Linked DNA regions of Homo sapiens. The protein of the gene in region 1 purifies or fractionates together with the protein of each later gene. This does not show direct contact. Each region holds a gene or a part of one and is shown on either strand. Other genes may lie near its edges.

Region 1 (3,908 bases):
TCCTGGGCTTGACCTTGCGTTTCCAGGATGATGCCCACACCTGCTGCCCTTCCTCTCTGGTTCCCTGCCCACCTCCTTCCTTCCCTGCAGATTCCACTTCCTGGGTCCTTCCCTCAAGTTCCTGGACCCCCGCTGGCTGCAAAGTGGAGGCCAGGTTCCAATCTGGCCTCCGACTGGCTACGTCTGGTTTCACCAGGGGTTTAAGACAGATTTTCTACATGTGACAACGAGATGGGTTCACATAAGAGCCCAGATTCCCAGCTTCTCTTGAGGCCTCCAAAGACCTGGTACTACTGGGTCACCACAGAAACAGTGACAGCCCCTCGACAAGGGAGGCCTATGTCACCCCATACTCATACCTCACAGGATCCTTAGGCTTCTATCCCCTAGGGGCTGGGCTCGTGAATCTAAGTGCTCCCCTTCTTTGCTCTCCTGTTCCCCAGGCCCTCAGAGAGCCAGCCTCCTGGATGCCCCCCAGACACAGTGGGTGCCATGGAGCCAGTGCCTCTCCCTCACTCTGCTGTCCTGGAGCCTGGCTCCCTGTGGTAAGCCAGGCTTGCAGAGGTGGCTCCTGACATCAATCCGCGGGCATGTGGCTGCTGCGGGAGGCACACACTGGCTCAGGACAAAGGGCAAGGGCTCACGGCTCTACCCACGACTCAAAGAGCATGCCCCAGCCCTTCAGATATGGCCCCACCTAGGCCTTCATGCCAGTGTGCTTTTATAGTCACCCTGCCAAGGACCCAGAATGTCCTTCCCCAGGTGACACACCCTACCTACAGAGAATTCTGCCCCAGCCATGCCTGCCCTTGATAATATACCCCGCCAGCACGGCCTCTGCCCAGCCATCCCTCCCGTGTCAGGCAGGCTCCCCGCAGAGTCCCTGGGTGATGCCTCTCTGGCCCTGGAGCCCCAAGGCCAGCCCAGGCCTCTGCTCTGGCAGAACAAGTGCGGCAGGCGGGCGTGCTGGCAGAGCTCGGCGTGGGTAGATGGAGCTCGGAGGGTCCGGAAGGGTCCAGGTTCCCTCGCCCTCCTCCGCAGCCTCTCTGGGATGGCGCTCCGGGACAGGGAAACAGGGAAGCAGGTGGCGGGGAGGCCGAGGGGCAGCTGGACTCAGCCCGCTTAGGCCTCCAGCAGGCAGGCAGGCAGGAGGCCACTCTCCCGGAACCTCCAGGCCGGGGGAAGAGCGCCTCCGAGGGCTCAGGCCCTACTCGGCCCCACCATCGCCAAGACCGGCCAGCGGGGCGGCGCGGGGGGATCGGCCCGCACCCTCCGCCTGCAAGAGCGCTGGGCGCACGCGGAGGGCGGGGGCCAGCCCGGGAAGCTCGGGGTGCGGAGGACGGGCTGGGGCCGCACGGGAGCGCAGGGCAGCAGGGGCCGGGCTGCCTCAGGACGCCTCCCTCCCTCCCTCCCTCCCTCCCACAGGCCGGATGCTGCCGACGCGTTCTGGGCGCCGAAGGGAGTCCCAGGACCGGGTGTCACGCCGGGGTCGCCCAGGCCGGCGCGGGGCAGCAGGCAGCAGGGTGGGGGGGTGCCCTCGCGCCTGTGTCCCTCACGCCGCCCCAGCTCCTGCCCAGGTGGCTGTGGCTGGCGTTCCGGGACCTCTGTGACCTTGGGTCTCTGCCCCTCTCCGAGAACCCCACGGGTCCCCAGCTCAGCGTCGGGACAGCTGCGCCCGCGGAGTCCGGTCCGGAGCACCCACGGGCGCGGCCCGGGCCCGAGGAGAACGCCGCGGCTCCAGCAGCAAACAAGTGGGGGAGGGTGGGAGGGGCGTCCTCGCGCCGCCCGGGCGGGGAAGGGGCGCCTGCGTCGGCTTCCGGCCGCCTTCCGCGGCCACCGCCGGGCCCGCTCCCGCCGCCGACGCCCAGGTGCGCCAGGTGCGGGCCGGGCGGGGGTCGCGCTCACCTTTCTGGCCGCTGAGTGCCGCGTACCAGGACAGCGAGAGGAAGGCGCACAGGCAGAAGAGCAGCAGCGTCAGGAAGGTGCCATTGCGGAGCCTCATCTCCTCGGGTGCGCGGCGGGCGCCCGCGGGGCCGAGGCTGCATGGCCCGGGGGACCGGGGCCGGGGCGCAGGGGTCGGAAGGCGGCGGCGGCGGCGGCAGGGGCCCCGGCCCCGGGTCGGGGAGGGGCGGGGGGCCCGGGGCCGGGCGGGGACCGGGCCAGGGAGCGCGCCGGCCGCCCCTCAGGGCGCAAGCTTTGTGCCCTGTACTCAGGGAAGAGGAACAGGCTCAGAAGGGCAGAGGCAGGTATCAGGCTCACTGCAGATATCAGGGGCGCGGGACACTGGCGGCCTCGCCTCCGCGGCAGGGCCGGGCCGGGCCGGGCTGGGCTGGGCTGGGCGGCGAGAGCCGCGGCCCGGCCTGGATCTGGGGCCTGGATCTGGGGCCGCCGCGGAGTCGACGGCGCAGGGCGGGGCGGCCCGGATTTAAAGGGGCCGCAGCACCGCCGTCGCCGGCGCCGCGAGGGGGTGGGGTGGGGGCCGGCGGCCGGGATCCCGATCGGCTCCCGCAGCCCCGCGTGGGCTCGTGCGAGTCGGCCTCAGGTAAGGCTGGAGTGGGAGTGCAGGTCGACCGCAGCCGGGGCGGGGGGCGGGCGGCGGGGGCGGCGCTCCGGGACCCCGGTACCCTTCTCAGCAACATCTCCTCCGCGCGCGGACCCCGACCCCATTCGCACGTTCTCGGGGCTCTTTCCCGGGCGTGAGGGGCTCTGGGTGGCGCGGGGGACTGGGCGGTTGAAGCCGGGAGCGACCGCTGCCTTCGCTGCCGCCCAGGGCGCTTCCCCGCTCAGGAGCTTCCTCTGGGCCTCTGGACGGAGGCGCGCAGGGGCCCGGGAGGCGGGAACGATGGGCCTTTCTAGGCGGTATCAGGGCCGATGCTCGTGGATGCAGAGCAGTGACCAGCCCAGAACCGTACCGGCTTCCCGGGGCAGGGGCGGCCCGAGAGCGCCGCTAACGGGAGCAACGGGCCCTGCCCCCGGTGGTGTAGGGGCCACCTCGCCCCGCCCAGCCCAGCCCGATATTGATGGGGGCCCACGCCTTCATTGTTTTTTTGTTGTTGTTGTTTTTTGTTGTTTTTTGTTTGTTTGTTTTTGAGACGGAGTCTCGCTCTGTTGCCCAGGCTGCAGTGCAGTGGCGCAATCTCGGCTCACTGCACCCTCCGCCTCCCGGGTTCAAGCGATTCCCCTGCCCCAGCCTCCCGAGTAGCTGGGACTACAGGCGGCCGCCACCACACCTGGCTAATTTTTGTATTTTTAGTAGACACGAGGTTTCACCGTATTGGCCAGGCTGGTCTCGAACTCCTGACCTTGTGATCCGCCCGCCTCGGCCTCACAAAGTGCTGGGATTACAGGCGTGAGCCACCACGCACGGCCCATTTGCGTTCTAATTTCAGGCGTTCCTCAATCCTCTGTGGAACCAGGAAGGGCGCAAATTATAAAGGGACTGGCCCAGCGCCGCCTCTGGGCAGGCTTTGGGCAGCGCCTGGCCCGCTGCCGGCTTGGACCTCCCAGACCTAGGGGCCCGGTTCCTGGTGGAGGCTGCAGGGACCTCTGCCCCACCCGCCCGGGGGAGGCCCGAGGGGCTGGACTCAGACTGAGATTGAATGCGGCTTTGTCTTCCTAGTTCAGCCCCGGCCCACACCTGGGGCTGAGTGGAATCGGGAGCTTCGAGGGGTCTGGACAGAGAGATTGATGCCAAGAAGGGGGTGGCCGAGCCAGAGGTTGAAGTGGGCTGGATCCTGAGGCCCCCTGTTAAAGGAGAGGGCTCCCCACTCAGTGCTCCTGGAACTTTCCGAACTAGAGACTGGGACTTATAGGAGCCTTCTAGAGGAAACTGTCGTGTTTTCACAGGTGTCTTCTATTTGTGGCAAAGGATAATGGCTTTTCACTTAGGTTGTGACATAAAGGGCCTT
Region 2 (3,808 bases), about 30 Mb from region 1:
GTGGCTATTTCGGGATAGGAAGTAAGGTGGGGTAGGAGAGAGAGATTACAAAGGGGCATGAGGAGATTTTGGGGATTGATGGATATGTTCACTATCTTGATTGTGGTGACAGTTTTATGTATATATATAGAGAGAGTACCTTTGAAATATGTACAGCTTATTGTATGTCAATTATACTACAATAAAGCTATAAAGTCTAATTCTTATCTGAAGGGGAAAAGAGTAGCTTGAATATAACCTGTTACATAATTTTCTTTTTCTTTTCTTTAAGAGACACAGTCTCACTCTGTTGCTCAGACTGGAGTGCAGTGGCATGATCATAGTTCACTGCAGCCTTGAACTCCTGGCCTCAAACAATCCCCCACTTCAGCTTCCAGATTAGCTGGTATTATGGACACACGCCGCTGTGCCCAGCTAAGTCATTTTGTTTTCAATTGCAGTTTATATTTCAATTCCTAAGAAATCGTCACTGAATGTTCCAATACTCTGGATACGCAGCCTTGGGAAATGTATTTCTTAAGTCCCCAGACACACACAACTTTGGGAGGAAGTATCTAAGCAAGGTTTTATTTCTTTTTGTAATATTTTTCTAAAAACAGTTATATTTAGTTTTAAAATATGACAGCTTCATTGGATAGATTTGATGACATATTAATCAGATACAGGTTGAGTATCCCTAATTCAAAAATCCAAAATCAAAAATGCACCAAAATCTGAAACTTTTGAGCACCAACATGATGCTCAAAAGAAATGCTCACTGGAGCAATTTGGATTTCCAGATTAGAGATGCTCAACTAGTAAGTATAAAACAAATATTAAAAAAAAAAATTCAGAAATTGGAAACACTGCCAGTCCCAAGCATTTCAGGTAAGGGATACTCAACCTGTACTGGGATTTTCCTAAGAAATCTAGGCCATTTAAAACTGAGCTTCACAACCTGTTGTAAATATGGTGTGATATGCATGTTTGTGTATGTGTGTTTAAGTAACTGCTTTTAACACATAACACAATCTAAAACCATAGGCAGTGAGGGTCAGTAGAAAAAGTAACCTGTTGTCAGGAGCCCTGGACTCCAGGCAAGTCATAACCCTCTGTCCCAACCATGAGACAGTTCAAACTAAATGATCAAATCATTAAGTGGTAGTTTTCCTGAATTACAGGACTTTAGAGCTAGACAGAGATCAAGAAATCCAACCGCCATGATTTTTTGGTAAGAAATAAGAGTTCAGCTGGGTACCAGTGGTTTACAACTATAATCTCAGCACTTCGGAAGGCCGAGGCATGCGGATCACTTGAGCTCAGGAGTCCAAGACCAGCCTGGCCCACATGGTGAAATTCTATCTCTACTAAAAATCCAAAAATTAGCCAGGCGTGGTAGCACATGCCTATAATCCCTGCTACTTGGGAGGCTGAGGCACAAGAATCACTTGAACCCAGGAGACAGAGGTTGCAGTGAGTTGAGATTGCGCCACTGCACTCTAGCCTAGGTGACAGACAAGACTCTGTCTCAAAAAATAAAATAAAATAAATAAATAAAGGTTCAGATTAGTGAAATCATTTGCTACTTAAAGGCAGAGATGGATCCAGAACCCAAGTATCCTGACTCCTAACCTTTTTCCTCTAATAGATTGCCTATGCCAGTCTCTGTAAGTGTATATACATCAGATAATTACAGGAAAACTAGAGTCGACCTAAAAACAACCTAAAGATCTCAAGTTTGTGGAAAACCTGAAGTCTTAACATTAACCCAGCATTAATGTGAACAAGTCAACAACCAAAGTAAGTCTCCTCTCTTATATGGAAAAATCTCAGACTAGACTGGTAAGAGCTACAGTGTAAGAAAAAAAAATAATTAAAAATATATTTTTAATAAAAATAAACTAGACTAGAATATGTAGTTTAGAAATAATTTTCCAATACTTCACACAGCTTTTTTTTTTTTTTTTTTTTTTTGAGACAGAGTCTTGCTCTGTTGCCCAGGCTGAAATGCAGTGGTGTGATCTCGGCTCACTGCAACCTCCATCTCCCAGGTTCAAGCGATTCTCCTGCCTCAGCCACCTGAGTAGCTGGGACTACAGGCGCCTGCCACCATGCCCGGCTAATTTTTGTATTTTTAGTAGAGACAGGGTTTCACCATGTTGGCCAGGATGGTCTCATCTCCAGACCTTGTGATCCGCCTGCCTCGGCCTCCCAAAGTGCTGGGATTACAGGCGTGAGCCACCGCGCCCAGCCACACACAGCTTGTAAGTAGGGGAATCATGACTTGAACAAGCCTGCCTGATTCAAACGTATACTGTCGCTTGATTGCTTATTTTGAAGCTGTTTTTAAATCTTCAGAAAAGTTGAAAGAATGATACATGGAACACTTCCATACTAACAATTCACCTATTTAGCAATTTTACAGTTCATAAGATGTTAACACACTCTCTCTCCATACTTATATGGGTTTTGTCATTATTGTTTTTCAACTATTTGAAAGTTGCAGGCATAGTTCAGCCTTAAACACTTTATTGAACCTACATTTAAAAAAAATTTTTATTTTGAAATAACTGTGGACTTGCAGAAAAGCTGTAAAAATAGTACACAGTTCCTGTATAATGGTCACTCAGTTTCCTCTAATATTGAACCTACATTTTTTTTTTAATTTTTTATTTTTGAGACAGAGTCTCACTCTGTTGCCCAGGCTGGAGTGCAGTGGCACAATCTTGGCTCACTGCAAGCTCCTCCTCCTGGGTTCATGCCATTCTCCTGCCTAAGCCTCCCAAGTAGCTGGGACTACAGGTGCCCGCCACCACACCTGGCTAATTTTTTGTATTTTTAGTAGAGACAGAGTTTCACCGTGTTAGCCAGGATGGTCTCGAGCTCCTGACCTCGTGATCCGCCCGCCTCGGCCTCCTAAAGTGCTAGGATTACAGGCGTGAGCCACCACGCCTGGCTATTTTTTATTTTTATTTTTGAGATGGGGTCTCACTCTGTTACCCAGGCTGGAGTGCAGTGGCATGATCTCAGCTCACTGCAACCTCCACCTCCTGGGCTCAAGCGATCCTGAGTAGCTGGGATCACAAGTGCACGCCACCATGCCCAGCTATTTTTTTGTATTTTTTGTAGAGACAGGTTTTCGCCGTGTTGTCCAGGCTGGTCTTGAACTCCTGAGCTCAAGTGATCTGCCTGCCACGGCCTCCCAAATTGCTGGGATTATAGGCATGAGCAAAGGAAGAGCCCAGCCTGAACCTACATTTTTAAAGCACTATGCCTCTTCTTCAAAAGAAGCATTCATTAGCAAGATGAGGTCAACCATTTGGATATGCTCCCCAAAAATCTGCACTGGCTCCCTATCTCCTACCAAATATGGTCTAAAAACATTGGTATAAGCTTCTATGCATGAGCCTAAAACTGCCACTGTCTTGCTTCCTCCTATGCACTAGTGTTCCAATCACCAGTCCATGAAAATATCAAGCAGCCTTTGCCCTTGGGGCCTTTGCTCATTGCCCAACCTCAAATGACACCTTATATAAATCGGTCCCTTCCTAGATACAATATATAAAACAGAGGCCAGGCACAGTGGTTCATGTCTGTAATCCCAGCGCTTTGAGAGGCCAAGGCAGGAAGATCACTTTGAGGCCAGGAGTTCGAGACCAGCCTGGGTAACATAGCAAGATCTTGTCTCCACAAAAAAAAAAAAAAAAAAAAAAAAGTTAAACAAATATGCAAAATAGCAGGCCGGGTGCAGGGGCTCATGCCTGTAATCCTAGCACTTTGGGGGGCCAAGGCAGGTGGATCACCTGAGGCCAGGAGTTCGAGACCAGCC

What was found.
Region 2: the proteins of MGAT4B (region 1) and SLC26A2 fractionate together in Homo sapiens (co-fractionation; one large-scale study listed by BioGRID). This does not show direct contact.

The regions. Positions count from the first base shown.
Region 1 is NC_000005.10:179,804,582-179,808,489, forward strand, and holds the start of MGAT4B (alpha-1,3-mannosyl-glycoprotein 4-beta-N-acetylglucosaminyltransferase B), read right to left. Parts: upstream 2,286-3,908; 5' UTR 2,003-2,285; coding exon 1,906-2,002; exon of another isoform or gene 1,812-1,905; intron 1,754-1,811; exon of another isoform or gene 1-1,753. UniProt on the Homo sapiens protein: Glycosyltransferase that catalyzes the transfer of GlcNAc from UDP-GlcNAc to the GlcNAcbeta1-2Manalpha1-3 arm of the core structure of N-linked glycans through a beta1-4 linkage and participates in the production of tri- and tetra-antennary N-linked sugar chains.
Region 2 is NC_000005.10:149,963,625-149,967,432, reverse strand, and holds part of SLC26A2 (sulfate transporter), read right to left. Parts: intron 1-3,808. UniProt on the Homo sapiens protein: Sulfate transporter which mediates sulfate uptake into chondrocytes in order to maintain adequate sulfation of proteoglycans which is needed for cartilage development.